Linked DNA regions of Homo sapiens: all the other regions are linked to region 3. Evidence: fine-mapped expression QTL. A gene starts in region 3. Each other region holds a variant in brackets. All regions are shown on one strand. Distances are between the middles of the regions.

Region 1 (5,673 bases), 150 kb before region 3:
CAAACAAACAAACAACAACAACAACAAACGCCAGACATGGTGGTACACACTTATAGTCCCAGCTACTCAGGGGTCTGAGGTGAGAGGCTTGCTTGAGCCCAGGAGTTAAAGGCTGAAGTGAGCTGTGATCTCACCACTGTACTGTAGCCTCTGCGACAGGGCCAAGATCCTGTCTTATTAAAAACACAAAAACAAGAACAATCCATTGCTCTTTAGATATAAGCCTTGGAACACCTATTTTCTTTATGTGTTTACACATAGTTGAAAACTGCCAAAAATTTGGCAGGATATAGATTTATACTGTTTATGTCACATAGGATTTAATTAATAATCAAAGGCAAAAATTGTATTTAGCTATAATGCTTTTGTATATTCTGCTGGGGGAAATGACTTTAGAAATCCTGCATCTGCATTAGTTGAATGAATCAATTCAACTTTGGGAACTCAAATATCTTTATAAATTCACTTGTATGTGTGTATTACCAACTCACGAGCAAAGATGCTGTTTCTTAAATGGGTAGTCTAAGTGGCTAAGTGAACCATAAGCTAGCTCCAGAGGTCTCTGGGTAGGAGGAAGCTGTCCAAGTATATTTAGACTTAGGTGTAAAGAGACTAGGAATCCTAAAATATGCATATAATATGATGATTACAAATTTTTATTTGTGATTATTAGGCGCTTAGTCTGCCAAGCTAGTACTAAGCATTTCACATTTGTTATCTCAATCCCTATAACAACCCTTTGAGAAAGGTACAGTTATTATCTCTGGGGCAGATAAGGGAAAAACCTGGGGCACAGCAGGTTACATTGTTAGCAGGTGGTACTGGAGCCAGGATTTAAATACTACTAGAGGTATAATGTCAGAAACCCCTTTTAACCACTGTGCCAAACTAAGTGGCAGTTAGTCATTGAAGGATTGGCTAGAACTTGTTGAACCTAATAAAAATACTAATATTTATTGAGCATATTGGACATTGTACTAAGCACTTTACATGTATCACACTCATTTAATTCTCCCAGCAACTCTGAAATAGGTTCCGTTTTACCCCTGTTTTACAGATGAGGATACTGAGGTACAGAAATGTTAACTTGGCCTAAGGTCGCACTCTTGATAAGTGATAGACCTAGAAACTGAACTCGGCCCAAGGCCCTTTTTAAAAATGTTTCCTCAAATAATGCATCTAAAAACAAATTATGGGTAGCTACTTGTTTTTTCCCTTTAAAAATATAAAATCTTTTTATTTTTTAATTTTAGTTTTTGTGGGTATGTAGTAGGTGTATATATTTATGGGGTACATGAGATCTTTTGATACAGACATGCAATGCATAATAATCACATGGTGTTAAAGGGGGTCTCCATCCCTTTAAGCATTTATCCTTTGTATTACAAATTATCCAATTACACTCCTTTAGTTATTTAAAAATGTATAACTACTATTGATTATAGTTACCCTGTTGTGCTATCAAATACTAGGCCTTATTCATTCTTTCTATTAGTTTTGTACTCATTAACCATCCCCACCTCCCTCCTCTTCCTCCCACTACCTTTCCCAGCCTATAATAGCCATCCTCTACTATCTCATGAATTCAACTGTTTTGATTTTTAGATCCCCAAAATAAGTGAGAACATGTGATGTTTGTCTTTCTGTGCCTGCCTTATTTCACTTAGCATAATAACCTCCAGTTCCATCTGTGTTGTTAGAAATGACAGGATTTCATTCTTTTTTTATGGCTGAATAGTACTCCATTGTGTATAAGTACCACATTTTCTTTATCCGTTCATCTGTTGTTGGACACTGTGGTTCCTTCCAAATCTTCACTATTGTGGCGGGGCGTGTTGGCTCACGCCTGTGATCCCAGCACTTTGGGAGGCCAAGGCAGGCAGATGACCTGAGGTCAGGAGTTTGAGACCAGCCTGGCCAACATGGTAAAACTCCTGTCTCTACTAAAAATATAAGAATTAGCCGGGCATGGTGGTGCACACCTGTAATCCCAGCTACTTGGGAGGCTGAGGCATGAGAATCACTTGAACCTGGGAGGCAGAGGTTGCAGTGAGCTGAGATAGCGTCACTGCATTTCACCCTGGGTGACAGAGTGAGCCTCTGTCTCCAATAAAAAAGTAACTTGTAGTGCTTTATTAAATTTATTGGTTAATCAAAATAATTCACCAGTGTGTAAAGAGAAGTGTCTAAAAATAAGTAACATTAGCAATGACAAAGACTCAAATGATGGTCCATCAGGTTCCAAAGCATCTATGTGTGTGTGTTTTCCATTAAACTAACCTTACTGATTTGCTTTAAACCTAAACAAGTAAACAAACACATAATTACTTACATTGTCACACTAATTTAATACTTTAAAATATAATTTCATTGCTTTTGTCATTTGGCTGTAATTTAACTTATAAAATTTTAAGTTGAGGCAGGAGAATCACTTGAACCTGGGAGGCAGAGGTTGCAGTGAGCTGAGATTGTGCCATTGCACTCTAGCCTGGGCCACAGAACGAGACTCCGTCTCAAAAACCAAAAAACCCACAAATCTTCGCTATTGTGAACAGTGTTGTAGCGAACATGGGAGTGCAGATATCCCTTCAATATACTGATTTCCTTTCTAAAATAAAAACCTTTTAAAAATGGTAGTTTATAGGACTATTTGCATATTTTTGTAATGAGTTTCAGGTAAATGGTTGCTTGGAACTTATGTGAGCAGATGTACCAAAAATTAAAAAAAATCTAGAGCTATAATCCATAAGGTAGTAATGAAAGCAATGCATTTAGTTGCCTTCATAATTCAGATTAATTTACTTAAATTACAGTTAATTTTGCTCTGAATAAATGTTTAGGTTTTAAGAATGTTCTAATATCTGTCTCTCTAAATGAGATTTGTTCTGCTCATCTGTTACATTAGAGCCTGTGAATATTAATAGAATTTGCTGTAAATACTAATGTAAAACTATTTACAAACTTATTTTTTAAATTCTTAACATTTTGTTGCATTCTGTATCAGTAAAAAAGATAATTCTCTTTGCTCAGAATATATATTAGGTTGGTGCAAAAATAATTGCAGTTTTTGCCATTATTTTAATGGTAAAAAGCTTTTTTTT[A/T]AAAAAAAGGCAAAACCGCAATTATTTTTGCACCAACCTATAGCTCAGAAATATTTTATGTATATACTTTTTTCCAGTAAATGATCACAAAACTAAAACTGCTCTAAATTTGTTATATATTGTGAAAGTTATATAGGCTTAAGCTCTAATTATTTTTGCATTTCATCAAATAGTGTAGAAGAACTATGCCAAAATGTACAGTAAGTAGGGCTTCAAATATAATCAGTATATTGGAACATTACATACACATTGTTAAATGTATTAGAGCTGGTGTCATGATAAAAATCTTCATTTTCTCTAATTGGTTGACTGTAACATTAAACATTTAATATCAGTAGTATTGATATAAAATATGTAATCTGTAATACAGTTAGGCAATTAATGTAAATACAGCTGTGTGTAACCTGTTTTCTGTAGACTGCTATTTTGAATGAGCATTCATTGTAGTTGACGTAAGAGTCAAAGTATCTTCAGATTTTCACTAGGTTAAATGTAATATCCCTACTTTTTGGGGTCTTAAAAGACATGTTTTATCACATTAGTAGGTCAAAGAAGGGAAAAGCTTAATTAATGTAAAATACTGAAAAAGTTCAGTTATTGATGGTATACATAAGGCACAGACAGCACCTATTTTGCTAATGTATTCATGTTTGCGAATAGCTTAGTTCCTTATATGTTTGTACGTTGCTATTCTATATGAAAAACTGAGAACATGTTAAATTTGATTAGAAGTAAGTGTAACTAGTAACTGCATGTCTGGTGTGACAGTGAATTTGGAATTGTTCCATGTACGTATTGTTGTGTAATAAGGAGCTCCTACAAAATCTATATCTAGAATTTCTACAAGATCTTCTGATTTATGACACATAATGATTTCTAAGTTGTTTTTAGGAAGGGAGCCATCTGTTGCTTCTTAATTTTGTCCTTCTGGGATTATTTTTTGAAACAGATTATTTCTGCTGCTACTGGTTCCTTTAGGATATTTTTAATTCTTTATTTTTTGTATTACAGCCCAAGACCTGCAAAATTTACAGAGCGCCCTCGGCCTGGAGTTCAAATGATCTGTTCTTCTTTTAGTGCTGGTAAGTTTCCCTCATTCTAATTTTCGACTTAAAGTTGTTCATTTAGAAGCCTTATAGTGGAGTGTGTAATATTTAGGAAAATATTTACTGTTGTATTATCAATCATGTTCTTATACATATGCCAGAGCTAATAAGTAACTGAGAATTATTATAAACTAACTTAGAAATATTTCATTTATGCAAGAGTTTAGTTTATATAATCACATGACTGTTTTTCTTTAAGAAGACTATAATGTTCTAGTAGGAGAGAATAAATAGTTTCAAAATCGACCCTGTTAAAGAATGAATGTTTAAATAGTTGTTTCATTGTAAGAATGGTATTTTAAATCTGGTTTATGTTTTCATGGATTTTGAAGGTATTCTATAGTTAAGTAAAATAAATTTGATTCATATTTGTACATCTTTATCAGTTAATTCGCTACATATTGTTCTTATTTGCACTTTAAAAAGTGATTGTATAGCAGTGCTAAGATTCCAATTCAGATTTGTGTTTATGCAGCAGCATTTTGAATGGATGTTAGGGTATTTTTAAACAAGTTATAAAAAAAATCTGGTTATTTGTAGTAAATTGATAAGAAAATTAAATGAAACATGAGTAGATCCAAATAGTGTCTAATACCTGTTCCTCCTACCTTTATTTTCAGTTTTACTTTTTCCGCTCATTTTATAATTGTGGATAGGAGTATTACCTGAGATAAGGGATAGCAAACTAATGAAGTGAGTCTGTCTTTGCCATACTAATATCCAAACATGTTCATTTTCTAACTTCTAGATGTTCAGTGCCACTGCCATGGATTCAGTATTCCTTGTAGTAGTCATACAAATATAGGCATCATACATGCATCCAGAATACTCTGAATTTTTACTCCTTTTTCAAGGACAATTTGATTTTTTTAAGGGGTTAGTGGGTAGATCATTTAGCAAAAGTACTTAAATATTTTATTATATACAGGTATTGTTTTCAATACTGTGGAAGAGTGTTACTCTTGAGTACACTGCATATACAAATAACTGTAATGCAAGGTAGAATGAATATGCTACAAAACAAAGTCTTAGGGGAGTTCTGAAGAGAGCAGCCTCATTTAATTGCAAAGTTTGTAAAGAAAAGTTACTGAGGGAGTTGGGCCTTAAAAGTTTGATAAGATTTTGACACATGGGAAATGAGACAACAGAAAAATTTCAGCAGAATTGCGAGAGAAATATTTTCTAGTGAAGGTGACTGATAATTTTAACATGGTATGGTTATATATTCACTTAGTGAAATTATTTTTTGAGCAAAGCTTTACTTCTATAAATATTGAAAAATTCATTCTAGTCAGATATATTCATAAACTTCTTTCTTAAATTCCAGTTAGATGTGTTATATATTTAGGATAAATGTGAATGGTTTTGGAGTAAAATATTAATTCAGTATATACTGTAATTTTGCTTACATTTTATTATCTAATTTTCAGAGATTTTGAAGTTATGTTTTACTTCTTAACAATTGC
Region 2 (5,673 bases), 78 kb after region 3:
TCAGAAGCTCTTTAGTTTCATTAAATCCCATGTGTCAATTTTTGTTTTTGTTGCAATTGTTTTGGCATCTTTGACATGAAATCTTTCTCTGTGCCTATATCCTGAATGTTATTGCCTAGGTTATCTTCCAGAGTTTTTATACTTTTGGGTTTTACATTTAAGTCTTTAATTCATCTTGAGTTAATTTTCATATAGGTGTTAGGAAGGGGACCAGTTTCAACCTCTGCCTATGGCTAGCCAGTTTTCCCAACACCATTTATTGAGTAGGGAATCCTTTCCCCATTGCTTGTTTTTGTAAGATTTGTCAAAGATCAGATAATAGTTGGTGTATGGTCTTATTTCTGGGTTCTCTATTCTGTTCCATTTGTCTATGTGTCTGTTTTTGTACCAGTATCGTGCTGCTTTTGTGACTGTAGCCCGGTACAGTAGTTTGAAGTCAGATAGTGTGATGCCTCCAGCTTTGTCCTTTTTGTTGAGGAATGCCTTGGCTATTTGGGCTCTTTTTTGGTTTCATATGAATTTTAAGATCGTTTTCTCTGGTTCTGTGAAGAATGTCGTTGGTAGTTTAATAGGAATAGCATTCAATTTATAAATTGCTTGGGGCGGTATGGCTATTTTAACAATATTGATTCTTCCTATCCATGAGCATGGAATATTTTTCCAATTGTTTATGCCATGTTTGATTTTTTTGAGTAGTGGTTTATAGTTCTCCTCATAGAGATCTTTCACCTCCATAGCTAGTTGTATTCCTAGGTATTTTCTTCTTTTTGTGGCAATTGTGAATGGGAGTTCATTCCTGATTTGGCTCTTGGCTTGACTGTTGTTTGTGTGTAGAAATGCTAGTGATTTTTGTACACTGATTTTGATATCCTGAGACTTTGCTGAAATTGTTTATCAGCAAGAAGCTTTTGGGCTGAAACTATGGGATTTTCTAGTTAATAGGATTATGTTATCTGCAAATAGGAATAGTTTGACTTTCTCTCTTCCTATTCAGATGCCCTTTTTCTCTCTCTCTCTTGCCTGGTTGTGCTGGCTAGGACTTCCAATTCTATATTGAATAGGAGTGGTGAGAGGAGTCATCCTTGTCTTGTGCTTGTTTTCAAGGGGAATGATTCCAGCTTTCCCCAGCTAATTAATTTTTTTTTTCTCAGAGATTAGGTCTAATTATGTTTCCCAGGCTGGTCTCCAACTCCTGGCCTCAAGTGATCCTCCTAACTTGGCCTTCCAAAGTGCTGGGATTACAGGTGTGAGCCACTGTGCCCTGCTCAAATCCATGAAGTTTTGAGAGTGGAGATGTACGTGACTTTCTTATCAGAAAGCTAAGACCTGTTCCATGTCTGAGTCTCACTGCTCATAATTTCTTTGAGTCATTTGCTGACATGATCCTGCTCACACCCAGAGAAAGCTGGGTGGCACTGTGGAAGGAATCATGGAGTGAGAGCCCAGAAACATAAGGTGTAGACTGTCTGGGCCCTGTGAGCAACTGGTGATAGCCCAGATGCTGGACTTCCCTGCTTTATTTTATCTGTAAAACAATCTTAATAGTATCTACTTGTGTTAACTTCCAATGGCTGATGTAACAAATTACTACACACTTTAAAACACGAATTTATTATCTTATGGTTTTGTAGGTCAGAAATCCAACACAAGTTGCTTGGGGCTAAAATCAAGGTGCCCACCAGGCTGTGTTACTTTCTGGTTGTACTAGGAGAAAATCTGTTTCCTTGTCTTTTCCAGCTTCTAGAGCCTGCTCACATTCACTGATTTGGGGTCTCATTCCTCCATCTTCAAAGCTAGCAATGTAGCTTTGATGATACTTTTGTTGTTATATGTTTTTCTCTGACACTCCCTCTTCTGCTTCCCCCTTTTTTGAATGATCCTTGTGATTACACTGGACCCATTGGATAATCCAAGATAATCTCTCTATTTTAAGGTCAGCTGATTAACAACTTCAATTTCCTCTGCAACCTTAGTTTCCCTTTACCATGTAACCTAACATATTCATAGGTTCTGAGATTAGAATGTGAACATTTTGGGGAGCCATTGTTATGCCTTGAAAGTGGCTATGCCCACTTTAGTTGGTAAAGGAATCAAATATAAAGGTACATCATCATTATGAATTACCATAATGATAGAATATACTATTGGCTGGGTAAAGTATTTTCATGTGCTTCAAGATAACTTAAAAACTCATTGCAATCAACATTTGATATGCCCCGGTTTTTGTTTTAACGTTAGCCATTTGGGGGATATTCAGTAGTATGTCATTATGATTTTAATTTGCACTTTCCTGAAGACTAATGGGAATAAACACCTTTAAATGTGTTTCTTGTCCATTTATGTATCTCATATTGTGAAAGGTATATCTAAACCTTTTATTCATTTGAAAATTGCATTTTGTCTGCATTGTGTTGTATGAGTTTGTGGTGAAGTTGCTATTGTGTCACCTTAACTAAACTGGAACTACTTTTTTCTGGGATGTCCCTCTCTGGTTGTTTTGAGCCTGAAAATTTGTGCAGGATTTAGAATGCAGACATAAAGCAGCAACTATCTTCTTTTTATTCATGGAAAGCTGGAGCAAGGCAGGTGGCACTGTTGCAGCTCACACACACTGTTGCTAATTTGCTGGTCACCCTGTGAGCATGAGGTGGCATCTGAGTTCATAGCTCCTCCAGCCAGACTTCCTCTTTACATTGTGCTGAATCCTGGGCCAGGTACATACTTATCTCCTGTAGTCAGTTGAATTTGTGTCTCCCCAAAAATATATGTTGGGATACTAGCCTTCAGTACCCCGGAATGTAACCTTATTTAGAGATAGAGTCTTTGTAGAGACAAAGGTAATCAAGTTAAAATGAGTCATTAGAGTGGGCCCTAATCCAAATACAGTGGTGTCCTTTTGAGAAGGGACAATGTGAACACAGAGACACACACATTCACAGAGAATGCCATGTGAAGATGAAGGAAGAGATTAGGGTGATGTAGCAGATACCAAGGAATGCCAAAGATTGCCAGCAAACCACCAGAAGCTAAACAAGAAGAATGGAAGAGGTTCTCCCTCACAGCTCTCAGGAGGAACCAACCCTGCTAATGTCTTCATCTGAGATTTCTAGCCTCTAGAACCAAGACAATAAATTTCTATTTTAAGCTATCCAGTTTTTATCGTGTTGCTCTGGCAACTCTAGCAAACTAATACATCTCCCTAATCATTGAAGTTGGAAGCTTGATTGAAGTTGGTGAGAGATTGGTACAGTCTGTCCTTGGAGATTTCAGCCCATCCTTATAGGTGAGTTTCTTCTTGCTTCTCTCA[C/T]ATTGCATTTAATTTCTCTTCCTGACTGCTTTATTAGCAGATCTCAGACTCTAGTATCAGATGTACAGACAACAGTTTCACAGAGACAGTCTCCCATAAATGTATGAGATCAAATCCATATAATGAAATATGTTTATATACATATATATATATATATATATATATATATATATATATATATATATATATACATACACATATGTATGGGACTCTTAGTGGTTCTGTTTCATTAATCAAGCCCTGATTGATACAGAACTCTTTGTATATCTTTAATACTAGTCAGATACATGTTTTGGAAAGATTTACCTCCCAATCTGTGGATCACCTTTTCATTTTCATAATGGTGTTTTTGAATAGTTATAGTTTTTAATTTTGATGAAGTAAAATTTATTAAAGTTTATATATATATATACACACACACACATATTTTGGCCTAGTGTAAACAAATCTTTACTCCACACTCATGAAGATATTCACCCGCCTCCCCCTTTTTTTTTTTAGCATGGTAAGAGGTAGTGGTCAAGATTCTTCTTTTTTTCTTATGGAGATTCAGTTGTTCCAGACCATTTATTAACATTATCTTTCTTTCTTAAATTGCCTTAGTATTTTTGTTGAAAACCAATTGACCATGTATAGGTGGGCTTATGGCTGGACCTCATCTTGTTCCATTGATTTACTTCTCTATTCTTGGCCAAAGATCACATTGTAAAAACCGCTATAGCTTTATAGTAAATCTTGAAATCAGGGAGTGTAAATCCTACAACTTTGTTGTTTTTCAAAATTGTTTTGTCTATTCTAAATTCTTTGAATTTGTATATAAATTGTAAACTGAGTTCAACAGTTAAAATGGATTTTTTTGGGATTTTGGTTAGGATTGAATTGGATATACAGATTAATTTGGGGGAATTATTGATAGTTTAATAATGTTGAATCTTCAAATACATGACCAGAGCATATATATTTAAATTGTCTTCATTTATTTAGATCTTCTTTAAATGTTCTTGAGAAATGGTTTTTAGTTTTCAGTGTTTTCATTACATTTATTATTGTTTTTAGGCTACTGTAAATAGCATTTTAAAATATCATTTTCTTAGGAACGCTTTTACAATGTTGGTGGGAGTGTAAATTGGTTCAACCATTGTGGAAGACAGTGTGGCAATTCCTCAAGGACTCAGGAGCAAAAATACCATTTGATCCAGAAACCCCATTACTGGGTATATACCCAAAGGATTATAAACCATTCTACTATAAAGACACATGCACATGTATGTTTATTGCAGCATTGTTTACAATAGCAAAGACTTGGAACCAACCCAAATACCTATCAATGTTAGACTGGATAAAGAAAATGTGTCATATATACATAATGGAGTACTATGCAGCCATAAAAAAGAATGAGTTCGTGTCCTTTGCAGGGACATGGATGAAGCTGGAAACCATCATCCTCTGCAAATTAACACAGGAACAGAAAACCAAAGACCACATGCTCTCACTCATCAATGGGAGTTGAACAATGAGAACACATGGACACAGGGAGGGGAATATCACACACCAGGGCCTGTCAGGGGGCTGGGGGGAAAGGGGAGGGAGAGCATTAGGACAAACACCTAATGCACGCAGGGCTTGAAACCTAGATGATGGGTTAATAGGTGCAGCAAATCACCATGGAACATGTATACCTATGTAACAAACGTGCATGCTCAGCATGTGTATCCCAGAACTTAAAGTAAAAAAAATATATATATATATGTATATAATAAAATATCATTTTCTAATTATTTGTTGCTAGTATGTAGAAATACAATCTATCTGTTCTTGGACTTTTTTTGATTGGTAAGCTATTAATTGTTGCCTCAATTTCAGAGCCTGTTATTGGTCTATTCAGAGATTCAACTTCTTCCTGGTTTAGTCTTTGGAGAGTGTATGTGTCGAGGAATTTATCCAGTTGTTCTAGATTTTCTAGTTTATTTGTGTAGAGGTGTTTACAGTATTCTCTGATGGTAGTTTGTATTTCTGTGAGATCAGTGGTGATATCCCCTTTGTCATTTTTTATTGCATCTATTTGATTCTTCTCTCTTTTCTTCTTTAGTAGTCTTGCTAGCGGTCTATCAATTTTGTTGATCTTTTCAAAATACCAGCTCCTGGATTCATTGATTTTTTGAAGAGTTTTTTGTGTCTCTATTTCCTTCAGTTCTGCTCTGATCTTAGTTATTTCTTGCCTTCTGCTAGCTTTTGAATGTGTTTGCTCTTGCTTTTCTAGTTCTTTTAATTGTGATGTTAGGGTGTCAATTCTGGATCTTTTCTGCTTTCTCTTGTGGGCATTTAGTGCTATAAATTTCCCTCTACACACTGCTTTGAATGTGTCC
Region 3 (5,673 bases):
GTGCAATGGCACGAACTCAGCTGACTGCAACCTCCGCCTCCTGGGTTCAAGCAATTCTCCTGCCTCAGCCTCACAAGTAACTGGGATTACAGGCATGCACCACCATGCTTGGCTAATTTTGGTATTTTTAGTAGAGACGAGATTTCACCATGTTGGTCAGGCTGGTCTTGAACTCCTCACCTCAGGTGATCTGCCCTCCTCGGCCTCCCAAAGTGATGGGATTACAGGCGTGAGCCACCACGCCCGGCTCAGGCTCCATCTTTTAAGCAAAGGAGTTTGGATTATGAGGAGCCCTTTAAGCAGGGAAGTGATGTTTATAAATCTTACAGCTCAGAATTCTAAAGTTTAAAATGAATACAGACTTTGTGAAGACCCATAATTCATTCTGAAAATATAAATGATATTTTGTATTATCTCCTGAACAAATTATCTACCTGACTGCTTTCATCCATTAGCAGAGATAATTGGGAGGTTACTGTCTTTCTTATGTCTTGCCTTGAACACTGAATCTTGATTACTCTAAGTTGGACTTAGTTAATTTATTTACTTACTACTTATTTGAGACAGAGTCTCTGTCACCCAAGCTGGAGTGCAGTGGCACCATCTCGGCTCACTGAAACCTTCGCCTCCCGGATTCAAGAGATTTTCCTGCCTCAGTCACCCTAGTAGCTGGGATTACAGGACTGTGCCACCATGCCCACCTAATTTTTGTATTTTTACTAGAGATTGGGTTTTGCCATGTTGGCCAGGCTGGTCTCGAACTCCTGGCCTCAAGTGATCCACCTGCCTTGGCCTCCCAAAGTGTTGGCATTACAGGCATGAGCCACCATGCCCAGCTTATGTTGTTTTATATATTAGAGACCTGTGAGCTCTTTTTATTTTATGTAAATAACTTAAAAACTTGTTAACATTATTCAAACGACTACAGCACTAGTAGCAGTTTTTTAAAACTATTTTTCTACATATTAAACCCACTTTACTCACATTATTTATAATTATCTGTATTTTTCTAAATTGTAAAATCATTTGAAGAAATCTTGTCCAAATGACTTTGTAATAACTTGTATGTTTGTATTATAAATGCAATTCAAATATCTTTTCTTGTTAAAAATAAGGACTTGCTTTTTCGGGGTATGGAATTTCTTGCAATAGACTGGAAGTAACAATGCCTGCACTTTTACCAACTCAATGTCATCCTGGATAAGTTACATCTCTGGCCTTTGGGGTCCTACTCTATAAAATGAGAAAACTGAAATCGTTGATCCCTATGATTTCTAATTTTCTTTCATTCTAATTATCGGCAGAATTGGAAGCAACTTACATTCTGGTTTCAGGAATACATGAGTTCAAATATTGCTCTACCTAAAGTTCAGAGCATTGTTTAACCTCTTTAAATTTGGAAAACAGGGATATTAAAACATGCCTAACAGTGCTATTGTGTGGATTAAATGATGGCTTCATTTTTTTTCTTGCCTTAGGAGTAGGCTTAAGGTAAGATTTGTTTAGTGATTTGTCTCATGGACATCTCCGTTAAGTAAGTAGAAGTATTTCGTATATGTGGTATCCACAATACTGGCTTGATTTTTTCTTTTAAGTTAAACCTAAGAAGGCCGAAGAAATTTTGGGGGAATCACTATAAAATGAAAATCATTATAAAATGAAAATGGACGCAACTTCTTCCCCACTTCCCAACGTTACTGTTTGCGGAACATACTCAAGAACCATTCCATGCAAAGTTTTACATGATCGGAAGGAAGCAGGTCGTGCTCTTCACTTGCCAATTCCATGGTGCGGAATAAAAACAAAACAAAACAAAATATTTAGTGTCCAGCACTCCACGTGGGCAAGTATTTACAACTAACATTTCAAGTTTTAACATTTCATCACTTTAAATTTAAAAACAAAATCACTGAAGCAAATATCCCCAGATAAAAACCTACCCAATTTGCATTCTTTTATTTTTAATTTGCCTGAGGCCAATAATTACCTTCGTCTAGGAGAAGAATGGGTCAAATATTCACTCTGCCAGGTCCTGGCGTCCCGGAGTACCTTTGCAACAAACGCGTCCTAAACGCTCCAGACCCTCCACATCTCCCTTCCCGCTAGGGGGGCCTGTGGGGCCCGACCATCTGCCAACCCTTTTGTGTCTTCCGGCTCTTATTTCCTCCCCCGCGGAGATCTCACCTGCACGCCCTGCTGCTGGAGGCTCTGCGTGATGTAATCTAGACGGCGACAAACGCTCTTTTTGGCCTCGGCTGCCGCCTCCTTGGTGCTGCTCACTCGCACCACCACCTGCGCCCGGTCAGGGCCCGCAGACACTTCTGAGGTGCCGCTTACTTGCACCTCGCGGGTAGCAGTTTGGGCTTGTGTTGAGGAGAGGGGGTGGCGTAAGCCCGGTAGCGTCTCTCTCCCTGAGGCCAGGTTGTTCTCCCGGCTCCGGTCAGCCCAGGGAACCAGTTCCACGAACACTCGGGTCGGAGGGGTCTTTTGCAGAGACATAGCGATGGCAGCTGGGTTTCCATAGTAACTACCGGCCGACGGCGGCCGAAGGGGCCAATGCGCACCAGGGCTTGCCTGTGCACGGCGCAAAGTATGCCGGGATGGGTGTGGAGGCCGCGGAACTTCTGGCGGGCGCAAGCTATATGCCTTGTTGATCTTGCCGCATCTTTTTTACTAGATGTCGGCTGAGTGAGTAGCTACAGTTTTTAACATGTTTAACTTACGGCCTTCAAAAATTGTTAGCGGACTTTCTCTGTTGCCTCCTCAGTGAGCTCTGCCCTTTCTCGCAACTCCTTGTCGTCCCACCGCGCCTCTGCACCTCAGAGGAAGGAGAAGAGTAGCGAGGCCGAGCGGGTTTTTAGATTTCTCTGTGATTACCCCCAGCCTTGTCTTTTCTGACTTTACCGTCCCCGCTTGGGGTACTGCTTTTTGAGGCTCCCTCGGCCACATTTTTGTGGTTCGTGAGAGGTTTCAGTTGAGGTGAACTTTTTGCCCCTGTGATCTTGGACAGTTTATGATTCTTCATATCTCAGTATCATCTTCTCTAAAGCAGGGTTGATAATATTTTTTATATTAGTAATATATAATATATTCTAATATATATAATATATTCTAATATATAATATATTCTAATATATATAATATATTAATATTATCAAAGCAATGTTGATAATATTTTTCACATTTGCTATGTGCTTATAAGGCGCCCATTGTATGTAGAGTGCGTTGCATATGGAAAGCAGAGTGAACATAATGGATGTTTGTAATGATAGCTATGGCTTTGGCATCATTTTTGTGTCTCCCCATTTTTTTCTAAAATCCCTGGAATGGTTCGGGCCTTGAATTCCGACAGAAGAGATTTAGGTGGTAGCAAAGCACGTCCAACATGGAGTTTGCTGGGCCTGCACAACTTGGAGCTTCTCTGTACCCTTTTCTTCAGAGAACTTTTAGAACACAACCCTCAACTTCCCGTCTTCTGGATTCTCTTCCTAGCACTAAGCAATGATCTTTGTAAAAATAGCCCCACTGACTTATACGTCTTTACTATCTGAATTTTATCAAGAGAATCGAGGGGGGAAAAAAGAATTTTGAATAACTAGTTCTAGAAGGACAAGAACTGTTCTTTTAAAAGGACCCTGAAAAGCTGACAGTCCTCTTGTAGTTTCTTCACCATCGTTTTTTCTGTTCTTTTCGATTAGTATAATTCAACTAAATCAATGGTACCCCCCTCCTTTAATTAGGCTCATCACTAGATTAACATAATTTTGTGTATATCCATCTTGTTTATTGTTAGCTGAAAACAATTTTAATTTAAAAACTAACGTTAAGAACTTTCCGTCATAGTCTTTTATTATTTAAGACACCCAAAATAATGTTTCTTAAACTTGGTGAAAAATTCTTTTTCCCTTACGATAAATGCGGAAGAATATAGCCTCCAAAATAAATTATTGAATGAGTGAATGTCATAAACAAAAAGCAACAGGAGTTAAAGTGTAAGTATTTAGTATACGATAAAAGATTTCATATCAGTGGAAAATGATTACATGGTACAGGGATAATTGTAAGCTATATATATAATATACTATAGCTATATAGCTATAGTATATTTTATATATATATATATTTTTTTTTTTTTGAGGCGGAGTCTCGCTCTGTCATTCTGGCTGGAGTGCAGTGGTGCGATCTGGGCTCACTGCAAGCTCCGCCTCCCGGGTTCACGCCATTCTCCTGCCTCAGCTCCCGAGTAGCTGGGACTACATGTGCCCGCCACCACGCCCGGCTAATTTTTTTGTATTTTTAGTAGAGATGGGGTTTCACCGTGTTAGCCAGGATGGTCTCGATCTCCTGACCTCGTGATCCGTCCACCTCGGCCTCCCGAAGTGCTGGGATTACAGGCATGAGCCACGGTGCCTGGCCCATTGTAAGCTATATTTTTAAAGAATTTGTATCTTATATCATACATTGAAAATAATTCAGATGAGACCAAAAAGAAAAATAATTGGAAGAACCTATATGTAAATATAAATATTCTGGGGGATGGGAAGGCTGGCCTTAATCATAATTTCATGTGCAGCAACCATGAAGGAAAAGTTTGAAAAATTGGACTATACTAAAAAAAATCAGTTATATAAAGCAAAATAAAAACAAAGGTGGGGGGGCAAATAAATGGGGAAAAATGTTTGTTAATGTTTATTATGTATAAAGGGCTAAGAGTCTTAATGCTTAGAGAACTGTTGCTAGAAGAAACAAACGTGTCAAAAGAAAAATAATGAACACTGAGGCAAACTGTATTAGATTGCTATTGCCATAACAAAAGTCTTTCGGCTTCAAAGACTTTGGAGCTTAAACAGCACAAATTTATTTTCTCACAGTTCTGGGGCCTAGAAGTCCAAGATTAAGGTGTCAGCAGTTTTGGTTTCCCCCAAGGCCTTTCTGGTTGGCTTGCAGACGGCTACTTTCTTGCAGCATCCTCACATAGCCTTGCCTCTGTGCACATTACCCCGATGTCTCTTCATAGAGCCTCACCTTTGTGACTTCCATTTAACCTTAATTACCTTCTTAAAAGCCCTGTTCCAAACACAGTCACATTGAAGAGCACTCCAACATACGAATTTTGGGGAACACAAGTCCACAATACAGACCAAGAAAGCAGAAATGTTAGTAGTCTATAGGATGAAAAAAAAAATAGTTTATCCTCACCAGTAGTTTAAGAAATGCAAATTTAACTACAGTGTAATGTCTGTTTTTGAACTATCATTTTGGCAAATAACAAAGCCCGTGAGAATGGAGAAGGAATAGATAATACTGGATTTTGAAAGAAGAATGAATTAATTCTTTGTGACAGAACTATAAATTAATAGTATATGAAAGAGAAGGATAAGCCTAAACTGACTTATGAAGTTTTCAGCTGGAATGATTGGGAGAATGAATGAAGAGCATAGAGCTATTTGTTCAGCTCATAGTAGCCCAGTTCTCTCTCAGAGTCAAGGCTGAGCCCCTAGCAACTGTTTTGAATAAGGTGACTCTACCAAGTTGATTGTACTAAGAATAGGTACCTAATTCCAGTTGAACCCGTTGGAATTTTTCACATGAGAATCTATATTTACACCAAATTTTAAAAATTTAGTCTCTTAGGTGACAGGGCTGTGACATACACTCATATATATATTTATG
Region 4 (5,673 bases), 260 kb before region 3:
CATAAAATGGGGAAAGGACACTCTATTCAACAAATGGTGCTGGAATACTTGGCAAGCCACATGTGGGAGAATGAAACTGGATCTTCATCTCTCACCTTATACAAAAATCAACTCAAGATGGATCAAGAACTTAAATCTAAGACCTGAAACTATAAAAATTCAAGAAGATAACATTGGAAAAACCCTTCTAGACATTGGCTTAGGCAAGTTTTCATGACCAGGAACCCAAAAACAAAAGCAATAAATACAAAGATAAATAGCTGTGACTTAATTAAACTAAAGAGCTTTGCACGGCAAAAGGAACAGTTAGCAGAGAAAACACACAACCCACAGAGTGGGAGAAAATCTTCACAATCTATACATCCAACAAAGGACTAATATATCCAGAATCTATAACAAGTTCAAACAAATTAGCAAGAAAAAAAGCAAACAATCCCATTAAAAAGTGGACTAAGGACATGAATAGACATTTCTTGAAAGAAGATATATTAATGGCCAAAAAACATATGAAAAAATGCTCAGCATCACTAATGATCAGGGAAATGCAAGTCAAAACCACAATGCGATACCACCTTATTCCTGCAAGAATGGCCATAATAAAAAAATAAAGAAATAATAGATGTTGATGTGGATGCAGTCCACAGGGAACACTTCTACACTGCTGGTGGGAATGTAAACTAGTACAACCACTATGGAAAACAGTGTGAAGATTCCTTAAAGAGCTAAAAGTAGAACTACCATTTGATCCAGCAATCCCATTACTGGGTATCCGCCCAGAGGAAAAGAAGTCATTATATGAAAAAGATACTTGCACACACATGTTTATAGCAGCATAATTTGCAATCACAAAAATGTGGAACCAACCCAAATGCCCATCAGTCAATAAGTGGATAAAGAAACTGTGAGATAGATAGATATATATATATATATATATATATATATATATATATATATATATATATATATATATAAAATAAAATACTACTCAGCCATAAAAAGGAGTGAATTAATGACCTGGATGAGATTGGAAACTATTATGGTAAGTAAAGTACCTCAGGAATAGAAAACCAAATATCGTATCTTCTTACTCATAAGTGGGAGCTAAGCTATCAGGATGCAAAGGCATAAGAATGACACAATGGACTTTGGGGACTCGGGGGAAAGCATGGGAAGGGACTGAGGGATAAAAGACTACAAATTGGGTGACATGTATACTGCTCAGGTGACGGGTGCACCAAAATCTCACAAATCACCACTAAAGAACTTACTCATGTAACCAAACACTGCCTGTTGCCCAATAACCCATGGAAATCTTTAAAAAAATAAAATAAAAATAAAAAGAATGTTGAATATTGACCCCTAATTGCTTCTGGCTTGTAGGTTTTCTGCTAAGAGGTCTGCTATTAGTCTGATGAGCTTCCCTTTGTAGGTGTCCTGACCTTTCTCTCTAGCTGCCTTTAACATTTTTTCTTTCCTTTGGACCTTGGAGAATTTCATGATTATGTGTCTTAGGGATGATCTTCTTGTGAAGTATCTTGCTGGGGTTCTCTGCATTTCCTGAATTTGAATGTTGGCCTTGCTAGCTAGGTTAGGGAGGTTCTCATGCATGGTATCCTGAAGTACATTTTCCAAGTTGGTTTCATTCTCCCCATCTCTTTCAAGAACACCAGTGAGTCACAAATTTGATATCCTCACATAATCCCATATTTCTTGGAAATTTTGTTTATTCATTTTCCTTCTTTTTCTCTATTCTTGTCTGTCTTATTTCAGAAAGCCAGTCTTCACGCTCTGAAATTCTTTCTTTTGCTTGGCGTATTCTCCCATTAATGCTTACAATTGCATTCCTAAATAATTGTAGAATGTTTTTCAGCTTTGTTAGGTTGATTACTTTCTTTTCTATACTGGTTATTTATCTGTCAGCTCTTGTATCATTTTATTGTGATCCTTAGCTTCTTTGGATTGGGATTCAACATACTCCTGCATCTCAATGACCTTCATTCTTATTCATATTCCAAATTCTATTTCTGTCATTTCAGCTATCTCAGTTCAGTTCAGAACCCTTGCTGGAGAGGTAGTGAGTGCGGTTGTTTGGAGAAAGAAGACACTTTGGCTTTTTGAGTTGTCAGAGTTCTTGCACTGGTTCTTTCTCGTCTTTGTGGGCTAGTGTTTCTTCAGTCGTTAAAGTTGCTGTCCTTTGGGTGGATTTTTTTTTCTTTTATTCTGTTTGATGAGCTTGAGGGTTTGATTGTGGTATAAGATGGATTCAGTCCACTGGCTTCATTTCTGGAAAATTTTAGTGGGTACCAAGTCTCAGCTCCCAGCTCCTGGACTGCAGGCTGTAACTCTTAGGGACTTGTTTCGGGTCCTGACTTTGTTCTCTGGCTCCTCAAGGCTAGGAACCCACTGTGCTGGGGGAGTTGAGATGCTGCCACTCTACTGGTCCCTAAACTCTGATGGGTAGTGCCAACAAAAATGTGGTGGCAGTGGGCTCTGTCCTTGTTTGCACATGCCAGCAGCAGCAGCAGTGGCAGTGTCAACATGGAGGGGTGCACACTCATTGGCTACAGTAGGATGGTAGAGAGTGCTGGGATGCCTTCCTCCATGTAGGTGTTTACAGCAGCAGCAGAAGTAAGACTGCTTAGAGGGGTGGGGAGGCCCCTGCTGGCAACTGTGCTTATGGGCATGCTGGTGGTGGTGTTAGCATGGGGGTGGGGTGCTCTTCTTTTTTCAACATAAAATGATTTTCAGTTATTTGTAAAAGGGCTTCTTACATATAACTGGGAAGGAAGAGGTGAGGTTTGTGTTTTTAAATTACAGATGCTCCTTTAAAAAAATTGGAACTGTATTTTCATCAGTGAAACCCTCTGCTTTAAAATCTCAGTGTCATTGCCAAAGACTAAATACATTGACCTTGGACTCAATTTTGAGCTACACATTCATTTCTCTAGAATGTTGGTAAAAGTTGCAGAAGTAGAGTCATCTGTATATTTCTCTTCAAGTCCTTAAACTTTTAGTAAACCATTATTTATGGATCTAACACACTTGTAAAC[A/C]ATGCCAGCAACATATTATTTGTCCTGCATGCTTATAAAATTCTTTTTTTTTTTTTTGGTCATGGTTAGATGATTCCCGGTAACTACATTTTAATTCTAATTCTGAGAAGTAAGTAACAAAAAAACTATAATCCTTAAAAAAATCAGTTGAATTAACAAAGGCACTTGCTTCACACAAGATTAAATTAGGCCATATGAAAAGTTACTTTGCATAATCTCTTCATGACTTTGCATCTAGTTATTTCCAAGCTAATATATCTAGCCTCTAATTCAAAAAGAATTGTAGACATGACTTTATTATCTTCCTTATGGAAAATTTCTTGATAAAAATTAGGTTGCTTCACTATTGATTTGAATCTAATTTTAGCAGTGGTTAGAAGTTCCAACACAGCTTTCTACAAGGATTTGAGATTTGACATCCATCTTAGTAGGTGTTGATTTACTTTCTGTTTTAAGCAGTTTCCACATTAGGGATTTGGGGCTCATTCTACCCACAAACCCTAATAATTGCCTAGGTATAATGCTACTCTGCATATATCACATGACTGGTGGAAAAATAAATCATTCATTTAACAAATATTGATCAAAGTTCTGCTGTGTGCCAACTATTATGGCAAGTGTGGAAGAATCAGAATTAACTAAGAAGAAAAAACAGACATGGAAACATTTCAAGGAAGAACTAGCTAGAAGGGAAGGATACAGAAGGATGGTGTTGGCACAAATCTCTGCTTTAGGTAAGTCAGGAAGTTTTCTAAAGGAGACATTTAAGTAGGAATTTTCCTTTTGGAGTTGGGTTGGAGAGTAGGTAAGAAGAAATCAGGAGGGTTGAGCATTCCAAGGAAAGAAAACAGTAAAAGACTAGGGACATGAAATAATTTATTGCACATTGCTTGGCTTGGATGTAATTAGTAGAGTAGTTAGTTAGGCAACAAGTATTTATCAAATAACTACTAAGTGCCAAGCATCTTGCTTGGTTTTGGAGATTTCAGATGTAAAGAAGACAGACCCACAAAAATATTACAGGTAAGCCCAGAAGACAGATATTAAAGAAATGATTTCAAGTGTGTTACGTGCTTCAAAGAAGTGTTACTAAGTCTAGAAGAATAATAAGTTTGAAGTACCGAATGTTGCTCCTCTCTCTCAAGTTTGCCTACTTTTTCCTAACTTCATAAAGGCTTTCTTTTCCTGTCTCCATTCACAAACCCAATTCAAGTAGCTAGTCTCATTGCCTAAGAATACACTTTGACATTATGTAGAAAAGAAATAATCTCTGAGGCTTTTCCTAGTTTTGTCATTATTGGTATAATGATTGAAAGCATGGAAGTGGATAATTGACCTAAAGAGAACAAAGGGTGTAAGTGGAAAAAAAAAAAAAAAAAAAAAGCAGGGCCCAGCATAGAGCTATGAGGAGTGCACAAAGAAACTTAAGAAAGAGCTAAACAAGAAGTCAGAGTAAAAACAGACTGAGAGAGAGGGTAGGCAAGTGAGTTGGAGACACAGGCAAGGCCCAGATCATGAAGGACCATGTAAATAATGAAAGAGTTTTGTTCGAAATGGCCCCACACCCTCAGCTGTTCCTTAGTTACCCTTCCTCTACTCCCTGAACCAGGTTACTCCTTTTGTCGCTCCTCTATGGACATTTCAGAAAGTCCCCTATTTCCTCTGTTCAACACCCATTGCCTTGGGACAACCCTCCTCTTGCCCACACACATATGACTGATATGACTTAGCCAACTTTACTATGAGAAATGTAGTGGTACTGAAAGGATTTTTTCTCCCACTGTTTGTTTTCTCTCTGTTAAACATTTTTGTGAGTTTTATTATAGTATAATTTACATAAATAAAATTCATCAAGCTTAAGTGCATACTTCACTGAATTTGGACAATTGGGCATAGAGTGTAACCACAATCACATTCATGGCATGGAACTTCCCATCACCATGAAAAGTTACTGTATACTCCCTTTGCAGTTAATTTTTTCTCTCCACCCTCTGGAAAACAGTGATTGGGTTTCTGACACTATAGTGTGGCTTTTTCTAGAATTTCATATAGTGGAATAATAGAATATGTAGTCTTTTGTATGTGACTTCTTTCACAAACCATAATAATTTATAGAATCATCAATGCGAGTATAAGTAGTTTTTCCCCTTTATTGTTGAGTAGTCATTCATAATATGGATATGCCACAAACTGTTCATTCATTCTCAAGTTGATGGTATAAGGGAGCTTCAAAAAGTTCATAGAAAATGGAATTAAAAGACAAAAATAAAAAATGTAAACATTATAAACATAAGTTCAATCAAGTAAACTTAGACACTTTTATAAGTGATGATACCAGTTATTTAGTTCATCCCTAAAGAACTGAGGGTCCTGGAAATTTAACCATGCCAATGCAGTCTTCTTTACATTATTAGCTGAAGAAAAATGGGTGCCATGTAAATATTCTTTAAGATTTGGAAACAAAAAGAAATCAGAAGGAGCCAAATCAGGACTGTAAGTTGGATGTCTAATGATTTCCCATCAAAACTCTTGCAAAATTGCCTTTATTTGATGAGAGGAATGAGCAGGAACATAGTCATGGTGGAAAAGGTTAAATTTTCTGGGGTGTTTTTCTGCTAAAATG

Which allele goes with the higher level. Positions count from the first base shown, and alleles are read on the strand shown. Sizes are in standard deviations (SD) of each study's normalised expression. Not every link is listed here.
For the expression in naive CD8 T cells of the gene that starts at base 2,525 in region 3, T is the high allele of the variant in region 1 and A is the other (large effect, 0.86 SD a copy in Schmiedel 2018).

The links. PIP is the estimated chance that this variant, and not a neighbour inherited with it, causes the effect.
Region 1: its variant is the best candidate, but not a certain one, in a credible set for the expression of IRAK1BP1 in naive CD8 T cells (Schmiedel 2018, PIP 0.58).
Region 2: its variant is the best candidate, but not a certain one, in a credible set for the expression of IRAK1BP1 in whole blood (TOPMed, PIP 0.59).
Region 4: its variant is the best candidate, but not a certain one, in a credible set for the expression of IRAK1BP1 in sun-exposed skin (GTEx, PIP 0.65).

Annotation. Positions count from the first base shown.
Region 1 is chr6:79,017,599-79,023,271 of GRCh38, reverse strand. It overlaps PHIP (PHIP subunit of CUL4-Ring ligase complex), which reads left to right. Exons shown (of 40, transcript NM_017934.7): 10 at 4,113-4,183. All of the region lies in intron 1 of LOC124901346 (a long non-coding RNA gene), which reads right to left. Among named protein-coding and RNA genes, the nearest start is that of PHIP, 58 kb to the left of the region's middle. The variant A/T (reference allele first, on the strand shown) is at 3,102.
Region 2 is chr6:78,785,975-78,791,647 of GRCh38, reverse strand. No RefSeq gene overlaps it. Among named protein-coding and RNA genes, the nearest start is that of IRAK1BP1, 79 kb to the left of the region's middle. The variant C/T (reference allele first, on the strand shown) is at 3,308.
Region 3 is chr6:78,864,403-78,870,075 of GRCh38, reverse strand. It overlaps IRAK1BP1 (interleukin 1 receptor associated kinase 1 binding protein 1), which reads right to left and starts at 2,525. Exons shown (of 4, transcript NM_001010844.4): 1 at 2,185-2,525. The coding sequence starts at 2,499. It overlaps LOC107986613 (a long non-coding RNA gene), which reads left to right and starts at 2,586. Exons shown (of 2, transcript XR_001744210.2): 1 at 2,586-2,688. RefSeq lists enhancers at 1,738-2,338, 2,171-2,490, 2,521-2,630.
Region 4 is chr6:79,124,797-79,130,469 of GRCh38, reverse strand. No RefSeq gene overlaps it. Among named protein-coding and RNA genes, the nearest start is that of PHIP, 49 kb to the right of the region's middle. The variant A/C (reference allele first, on the strand shown) is at 3,051.